Homo sapiens: one gene and its partner. The protein of the gene in region 1 purifies or fractionates together with the protein of each later gene. This does not show direct contact. Each region holds a gene or a part of one and is shown in the gene's direction. Other genes may lie near its edges. The genes, in order: CAPN9 and MPI.

Evidence for each region.
Region 2: the proteins of CAPN9 (region 1) and MPI fractionate together in Homo sapiens (co-fractionation; one large-scale study listed by BioGRID). This does not show direct contact.

Annotation. Positions count from the first base shown.
Region 1 is NC_000001.11:230,753,826-230,757,640, forward strand, and holds part of CAPN9 (calpain-9), read left to right. Parts: intron 1-73; exon of another isoform or gene 74-261; intron 262-1,511; coding exon 1,512-1,581; intron 1,582-3,815. UniProt on the Homo sapiens protein: Calcium-regulated non-lysosomal thiol-protease.
Region 2 is NC_000015.10:74,893,000-74,896,814, forward strand, and holds part of MPI (mannose-6-phosphate isomerase), read left to right. Parts: intron 1-138; coding exon 139-321; intron 322-3,152; coding exon 3,153-3,326; intron 3,327-3,815. UniProt on the Homo sapiens protein: Isomerase that catalyzes the interconversion of fructose-6-P and mannose-6-P and has a critical role in the supply of D-mannose derivatives required for many eukaryotic glycosylation reactions.

The DNA of each region.
Region 1 (3,815 bases):
AGACCGGCCCGGCTTCCTCCCTCCCTCCCTCCCTCCCTCCCTTTGTTTAGGTCTGTGCTCCTCTGCTTCCCCCAGAGACGCCTCCCCTGCTGACTGCTGTAGCTAGCCTTGCCCCATCCCACCCCTTCCCTCTCCATCCTCGCTCTTTTCTCTCCTGGTTTATGGTTTGTCTCTTCCTCAAATGCAATTTGCAAAACTCTCCTGAACGAAACAACAGCTTCTGGGAGGTGGTGGCAGCTGCAGGCACAGTGGGCGCCGTGGGTGAGGCCAGGGCTGAGGCAGGCTGGGGGAGGGGCGGGGCAGGAGGCTGGGAAGGGGCGGGGCTTCCGAGAGCACCGCCCTCCGCGTCCAGGGCAGCTCCACCAGGGCAGGGGCTTTCCCTCTCTCTTTGTTGTCGTCCAATGTCAGGAATGGAGCCCAGCAACTCAAAGAGTGGAAGAATATATGCATATCATAAGATTGCTTTCTACACTTTTTTGTTCATGTTTTATAAATACCCCTCCATATTGTATATGTATATATTAATATGTATTAATGATTACATTAATACACATAGTGTATGTGCTTATGTGTAATATAGAATAATATATATATAATGCACTTCGGTGAAACAATATGAGAGATGTGTGCATATCTCTCTTTATATGGTATAGATACATGAAATTTTACCTAAGCGCATCTCTGTAAAAAGAAACACTGAGCAGGGTGGCATGTGTCTGTAACCTCAATACCTTGGGAATCCAAGGCGGGAGGATCACTTGAGGCCAGGAGTTTGAGACCAGCCTGGGCAACATAGCGAGACCCCCATCTCCACAAAAAAAAAAAAAAAAAAATTAAAAAGTGGCTGGGCGTGGTGACTCACGTCTGTAGTCCCAGTTACTTGGGAGGCTGAGGTGGAAGGATTGCTTGAGCCCAGAAGGTCAAGGCTGTAGTGAGCTATGATCATGTCACTGCACTCCAGCCTGGGTGACACAGCAAGATTCTGTCTCTAAACCTATATATATTTGGAATCCACTTTGTGGGGGAAGGATTATATAAAGAAAGAAATGGAGAAGCTGGGTGGGTAGGGAGTATGTTTAGTCCAAGGCCCCAGCCTGTGGTACATGCATTACTCAGCTCCTTGAAGCCCACAGAGGTCACAGAGCTCACAGCTGGGATAGCCCTGGACTCCTAGCCCAGTGCCTGAGTGAGCACAGGAATCCTCAGTGTGTGGCTGATGTCCAGCTTTGTGGCCGGGTGTGGCCTGTGTTTCTGGCCAGAGATTGGTGCTGAGTGCAGCTCAGGAGGCAGGACCTCTCCCCGGCGGAGGAGATTTACCAAAGATGAGCCCAGCCTTATCCAGAGCATAGAGAGGTGGCAGCCTTTTACATCCACGTGGCCCTCCTCAGGGAAAAGAATCAAGCACAGGGAAAGCCCTCTGCCCCAAGAAAGCAGAGAGACCCTGAGCCTACCCTTTCATAGTGGCTTGCAGCATGGCAGGCCTCAGCCTAATAACACTCTCATTCCTCCAGGAAATCGTGAAAAACCCAGAATTCATTCTTGGAGGGGCCACCAGGACTGATATCTGCCAGGGAGAGCTGGGTGAGTGTAAGTGGATGGAGCATGGCGAGAGGGAGGTTGAGTCACTGGGACAGGCAAGCAACTGCAGCATGGGGTCCCTGAGGACCCAAGAGGCACGGGGCTGGGGGAACAACACTGCTTCGGCCTCTGCTTCCTCACTCCCTCTGAATGGAGTCCAGTGGCCTCAAGCCCCTGCACCTCCGTTCCTCTAGAGTCAGACATGCCTGTGATGTGGGGCTCACAGCCCCGGAGTTTACAGAGGAAAGTGACACCCAGCAGCGTTGGTCGGGCTCTCCTACACCACCACAGTAGCTAACACCTGCACACATGAACTCAGTCACCTGCGAGGTACTCTCCCCAGCACACATTGCCTCATTCCATCTTCACAACCCACCCTCCTAACGTCACAGATGAGGAAATGGAGGCTGAGGAAGGCTAAGTAACTTGTCCAAGGTCACAGAGGTGGTAGACAGGCAATCAGGATTTGAACCCAGACACTCCAGCAGCAGAGCCCTTACTGCTAACCATTATACACACCCTGGGGAGCCGCTCCCCAGCAATCCAGTCTCCCTCCTGCAATGAACCTGAGTGCACCTCAAGTCACTCAAATTGGGTCCTGCATTTTAGGACTTAATCCAACTGGGCTGGGTTTACCTTTGTTCTATCTATGAAAGACAGAGAAAGTGAGAGAGCGAGAGACTTTCTTTTAAAAAATACCAGTGAAATCAGCCTAGAGAACAAACCACTGCAAGCTTGTGTGGACCCTGACTTATTTCTAGCTGAGGTTGTCACTGTGGTCTATTGGTTAAGAAAGGCCATGCTGGAACCTCCATGCTGAGCAACTGAGCTATCCTAAACACAAGATCCAAAGTCACAAACCTAGACTGATGTTAGTTAATTAGCTAGACAGAGAGACAATTGAGAGAGAGAGAGAGAGAGAGAAGCAAATGGATAGATAGATAGAAACATAGATAATAAGTAATAGATGATAGGTAGAAAACGGATGCATAATTAGATAGATAAATAGGTTGATAGGTTGATTGATTGACTGATAGACCATACAAAATAAATATATAATAATAGATAGATGGTAGTAAATAATGATAGGAAGGTAGGTGGGTAAATACATGGATGGATGGGTATAGATAGATGATGGATGATAGACGGAATTACAGTTGACCCTTTAACAACATGAGTTTGAACAGTGCAGGACCACTTCTAAGTGGATTTTTTTTCAACCAAACACAGACAGAAAATACCGTGTTCCAGGCTGAGCGTGATGGCTCACACTTGTAATCCCAGCACTTTGGGAGGCCGAGGCAGGAGAATCGCTTGAGCCGAGGAGTTCAAGACCAGTCTGGGCAACATAGTGAGGGCTCGCCTCTACTAAAAATTAAAATTGAAAAATTAGCCAGGCTTGGTGGTGCATGACCATAGTTCCAGCTACTTGGTAGGCTGAGATGGGAGGATTGCTTGAGCCTGGGAAGTTGAGGCTGCAGTGAGCTGAGATCATGCCACTGCACTCCAGCCTGGACAACAGAGTAAGACACTGTCTCAAACAAACAAAAAGGAAAAAAAGGAAGGAAAGAAGGAAGGGAGAGAGGGAGGAAGGGAGGGAGGGAGGATGGAAGGAAGGAAGGAAGGAAGGAAGGAAGGAAGGAAGGAAGGAAGGAAGGAAGGAAAGGAGAAAATATACTATTCCAGGATTTGAAACCCGCATATACAGAGGGCTGACTTGGTATAGGCAGATTCCACAGGGCTTACTGTGGGACTTGAGTATGCACAGATTTTGGTATACACAGGGGTCCTGGAACCAATCCCCCATGTATGCCATATTCTAGATACAATGTAGACTTTTCAAAAGGTTTACATTCAGGTGGTCCTTCTCCAGGAGATCCTCCCTGCCGCTGCCCACCTCTCCCCCTCTTCCTCTGCCTCCCTTCCCCTCGACCCCGTAGTCCTCCATTGCTATCCAATAGGAAATCATTCTACTGGCTCCTTTGTTTTTCAAAGTTTTGGTTTGTCACATTGGCATAAACATATATTTGGAGTTACAACCTTATATTTTACCTTAGTGGATGGTTGATTCTAAAGATTATTTTGTAACACTTTTACTACACCAAAGTACTGTACATGGCATATATATGTTATAAAGAATAACAAGAAAATGAACAGCCGTGATCTGTTGCCACCCACAATAAGAACTAGAACATCTGGTCATGTAGAGTGCTCACACCTGTAATCGCAGCGCTTTG
Region 2 (3,815 bases), on another chromosome or scaffold:
GGTTTCCACTGCAAAGTTTACTTAGCATTGCCGGCTCTTTGGTTAGGGCTGGGATGGAAAGGTGTCCTCCAACTCCCCACTTGTGTGGGTTCCATCTTACCATTCCTGATATGGGCCCTGGGCCTTGCCTTCCTGTAGAGGTGCCTGAGTTTCAGTTCCTGATTGGAGATGAGGCAGCAACACACCTGAAGCAGACCATGAGCCATGACTCCCAGGCTGTGGCCTCCTCTCTGCAGAGCTGTTTCTCCCACCTGATGAAGAGTGAGAAGAAGGTGGTGGTGGAACAGCTCAACCTGTTGGTGAAGCGGATCTCCCAGCAAGGTGGACACAGTTATATTCCTGGTTGGGTGCAATGCTCTGGCCTGGGCTTCCCAGCAGACACCAGACTCTGGGGACAGTTCTCAACCCCCTTGCCCAAGTGGAACACTAAAAGGGGCCCCACTTAGATGACCTGTTGGCAACTTAGCATTGCTTGCCTAGTCTTTGTGGAGCAGGGCCCTTCTTAGTTGAGTGCTGCTTCCCAACTGGTCATCTTCTCCAGATGGTTGGAGGCAGACTGGCATAGAGGACTCTTAGGATGCCTTCCACCTAGGCATTCTGAGATTTTCCCTAGCCCTGCAGCTGCCCTCCATGGATGGACTTGTATCTCGGGGCTAAAGAGGCAGGAAGGGGACACGAGCATCCTCCCTCTCCTGGAAAGGACTGATGCCTCCAGCACTCAGTCATTTGATCTTTCCTTTACCTTCTGTGTGCCCAACCTTGTGCTAAGAAGAGTTCAGGAAATGACTGTGATGGGTGTGGTCACTGTCACCCTAAAGGTGGGGAGTCAACACAAGCAGTAAGAAACCCAAAACAGAACAGACTCCCAGCAATGAGCTTATGTGGTGCAGGCGATGAGGTCTCAGCTTCTTAGCCTGGCAGCCACAACCCCTTCTCTAGGTGGCCCAGAGCTCTCTTTTTATTTTACCTCTACAGGTTTCCCATTACCTTTGAGCCTTAGGGCATTATTTATTTGACCCAAGCATATTTTTTTCTGTTCAGTGTGTGTGTGTGTGTGTGTGTGTGTGTGTGTGTGTGTGTGTGTGTGTGTGTGTGTGTGTGTGTGTGTGGTCTCTTTCTGTTGCCCCAGGCTGGAGTGCAGTGGTGCGATCTTGGCTCACTGCAGCCTCTGCCTCCCGGGTTCAAGCAATTCTCCTGCTTCAGCCTCCTGAGTAGCTGGGATTACAGGCATGTGCCACCACATCTGGTTAAGTTTTTATATTTTAGTAGAGACGGAGTTTCACCATGTTGCCTAGGCGGGTCTCGAACTCCTGAGCTCAGGCAATTCACCTGCCTCAGCCTCCCAAAGTGCTAGGATTACAGGTGTGAGCCACCACGCCAGGCCCCTTGCCTCACTTTAAAGAAGCCTGGCTGGGCACGGTGGCTCACACCTGTAATCCTAACACTTTGGGAGGTTGAGGCGGCCGTATCACTTGAGGTCAGGAATTCAAGACCAGCCTGGCCAACATGGTGGAACCCCATCTCTACTAAAGATACAAAAATTAGCCAGGCGAGGCAGAGGTTGTGGTGAGCCTAGATCATGCCACTGCACTTCAGCCGGGGCAATAGAGTGAGACTCTGTCTCAAAAAAAAAAAAAAAATGCTGGGCATGGTGGTGTGTGCCTGTAATCCCAGCTACTCAGGAGGCTGAGGCGCAAGAATCACTTGAACCCAGGAGGTGGAGGTTGCAGTGAGTCTAGATTGCACCACTGCACTTCAGCCTGGGAGACAGAGCAAGACTCCGATTCGGAAAAAAAAAAAAGAAAAAGAAAAAGAAAAAAAATTTAAAAATTAAAGAAGTCCACCCTTGCCACTCTACCCAGGCTGAGCTCATTTTCCCTTGTCGTTTCCAGGACACATTTTGGCCCTCAGCGCATTCTGCCTCATGCTCTCTGGAGCAGACCGAGAGAGATTCTCTGAGACATAGAACTTTCTTTTTTTTTTTTGAGACGGAGTCTCGCTGTGTCACCCAGGCTGGAGTGCAGTGGTGCAATCTCGATCACTGCAACCTCCGCCTCCCGGGTTCAAGCGATTCTCCTGTCTCAGCCTCCCGAGTAGCTGGGATTACAGGCACGTGCCACCACACCTGGCTTTTTTTTTTTTTTTTTTTGTATTTTTAGTAGAGATGGGGTTTCACCATGTTGGTCAAACTGGTCTCGAACTCCTGACCTCGTGATCCGCCTGCCTTGGCCTCCCAAAGTCCTGAGATGACAGGTGTGAGCCACCGCGCCCAGCTGAGACACAGAACTTTCAGTGCTAAAAACTAGAAAGTCGCCGGGTGCGGTGGCTCACACCTGTATTCCCAGCACTTTGGGAGGCCTAGGTGGGAGGATCCCTTGAGTTCAGGAGTTCGAGACCAGCCTGGGCAATATAGCGACCCCCTCTCTCTGCAAATAATAAAAAACTTAGCCGGGCATGGTGGCATGCACGTGTGGTTCTCGCTACTCAGGAGGCTGAGGTAGGAGGATTGCTTGGTCCTGGACAGTTGAGGCTGCAGTGAGGTATGATCGTGCCACTGCACTCCAGCCTGGGTGACAGCGAGACCCCGTCTCAAAAAAAAAAAAGGGAAAGCTCGGGCATGTTGGTTACCCTTCATGAAACTCTTTTGCGTTATCTCCCTAGATTTTGAGCTCCAAGGGCAGTGGTTCTCATACAGGGGACATTTGGCTGTTGTCTGGAGCCATTTTTTGATTGTCAAAACCCAGATAGGGGTTGCTAGTGGCATCTTGTGGGTGGAGGCCAGGGAAGCTGCTACACATCCATCAGTACACAGGACAGCCCCCACAATAAAGAATTACCTAGCCCAAATGTCAGTAGCGCCAAGGCTGAGAAATCCCATCCTGAAAGGACCATACTCTAGCTCTTTTAGTGGCTAGTATAGTCCTGGGCATATGAATAGTCAAGATATGATGAAAGATGGTATTTGTATGGACTGGAGTATCAAGCAAGGCTCGACCCCCAAAGGGCTGGAGGCGTGGCCAGAAGGACAGGGCCACTTTGGCTTCTGGATTCCTGTGGCAGGGACCTTTTCCTAGGACTCCCTGGCCAATGTGGGGCTATGAACAGCACTGAGTATCCCCCTAAGTGACCTTGGGGTGCTCTGTGACCCTCAGCGGCTGCCGGAAACAACATGGAGGACATCTTTGGGGAGCTTTTGCTACAGCTGCACCAGCAGTACCCAGGTGATATCGGCTGCTTTGCCATCTACTTCCTGAACCTGCTTACCCTGAAGCCTGGGGAGGCCATGTTTCTGGAGGCCAACGTACCCCATGCCTACCTGAAAGGAGGTGAGCCACATTTCAGCAGTGAGCCCCACTGCCATCCCTGCTGGGCCCTGTTTCCCTATCTGGACAAAGGAAGGAGAAGGGTGGTCAAGGAGACCCCCAAGGACCTTGCAGCTCTGACCTCTGAGGGTTCCTGGGCTCAGCAAGCAACAGCTGGTAGGGATGATGAATGCATTTAGCATTGAACACGCCTTGAATCCTGACACCAACCCTGTGATGCCATGCTACTCTGATTTTAAGTCCTGCCAGTCAGTGTGGGAACCACAATTTGAACGCAGGCTATATTGGATCAAAGCTGTTGTTCTGTCACAGCCTTTGTATGTCTGTCCTACCTACCAGGGATTTTTACACTAAAATATGCATGTTGCCATGGAAGGATGCCACCTTTCGACTGTTGGCTGCTTATCCACACATGCCTCATGCACAGGATTCTGGGGTAGAAGTGGGAGACTACAGAGTTGGGGCTCCCCAACCCCCAGGGGTTAACATGAC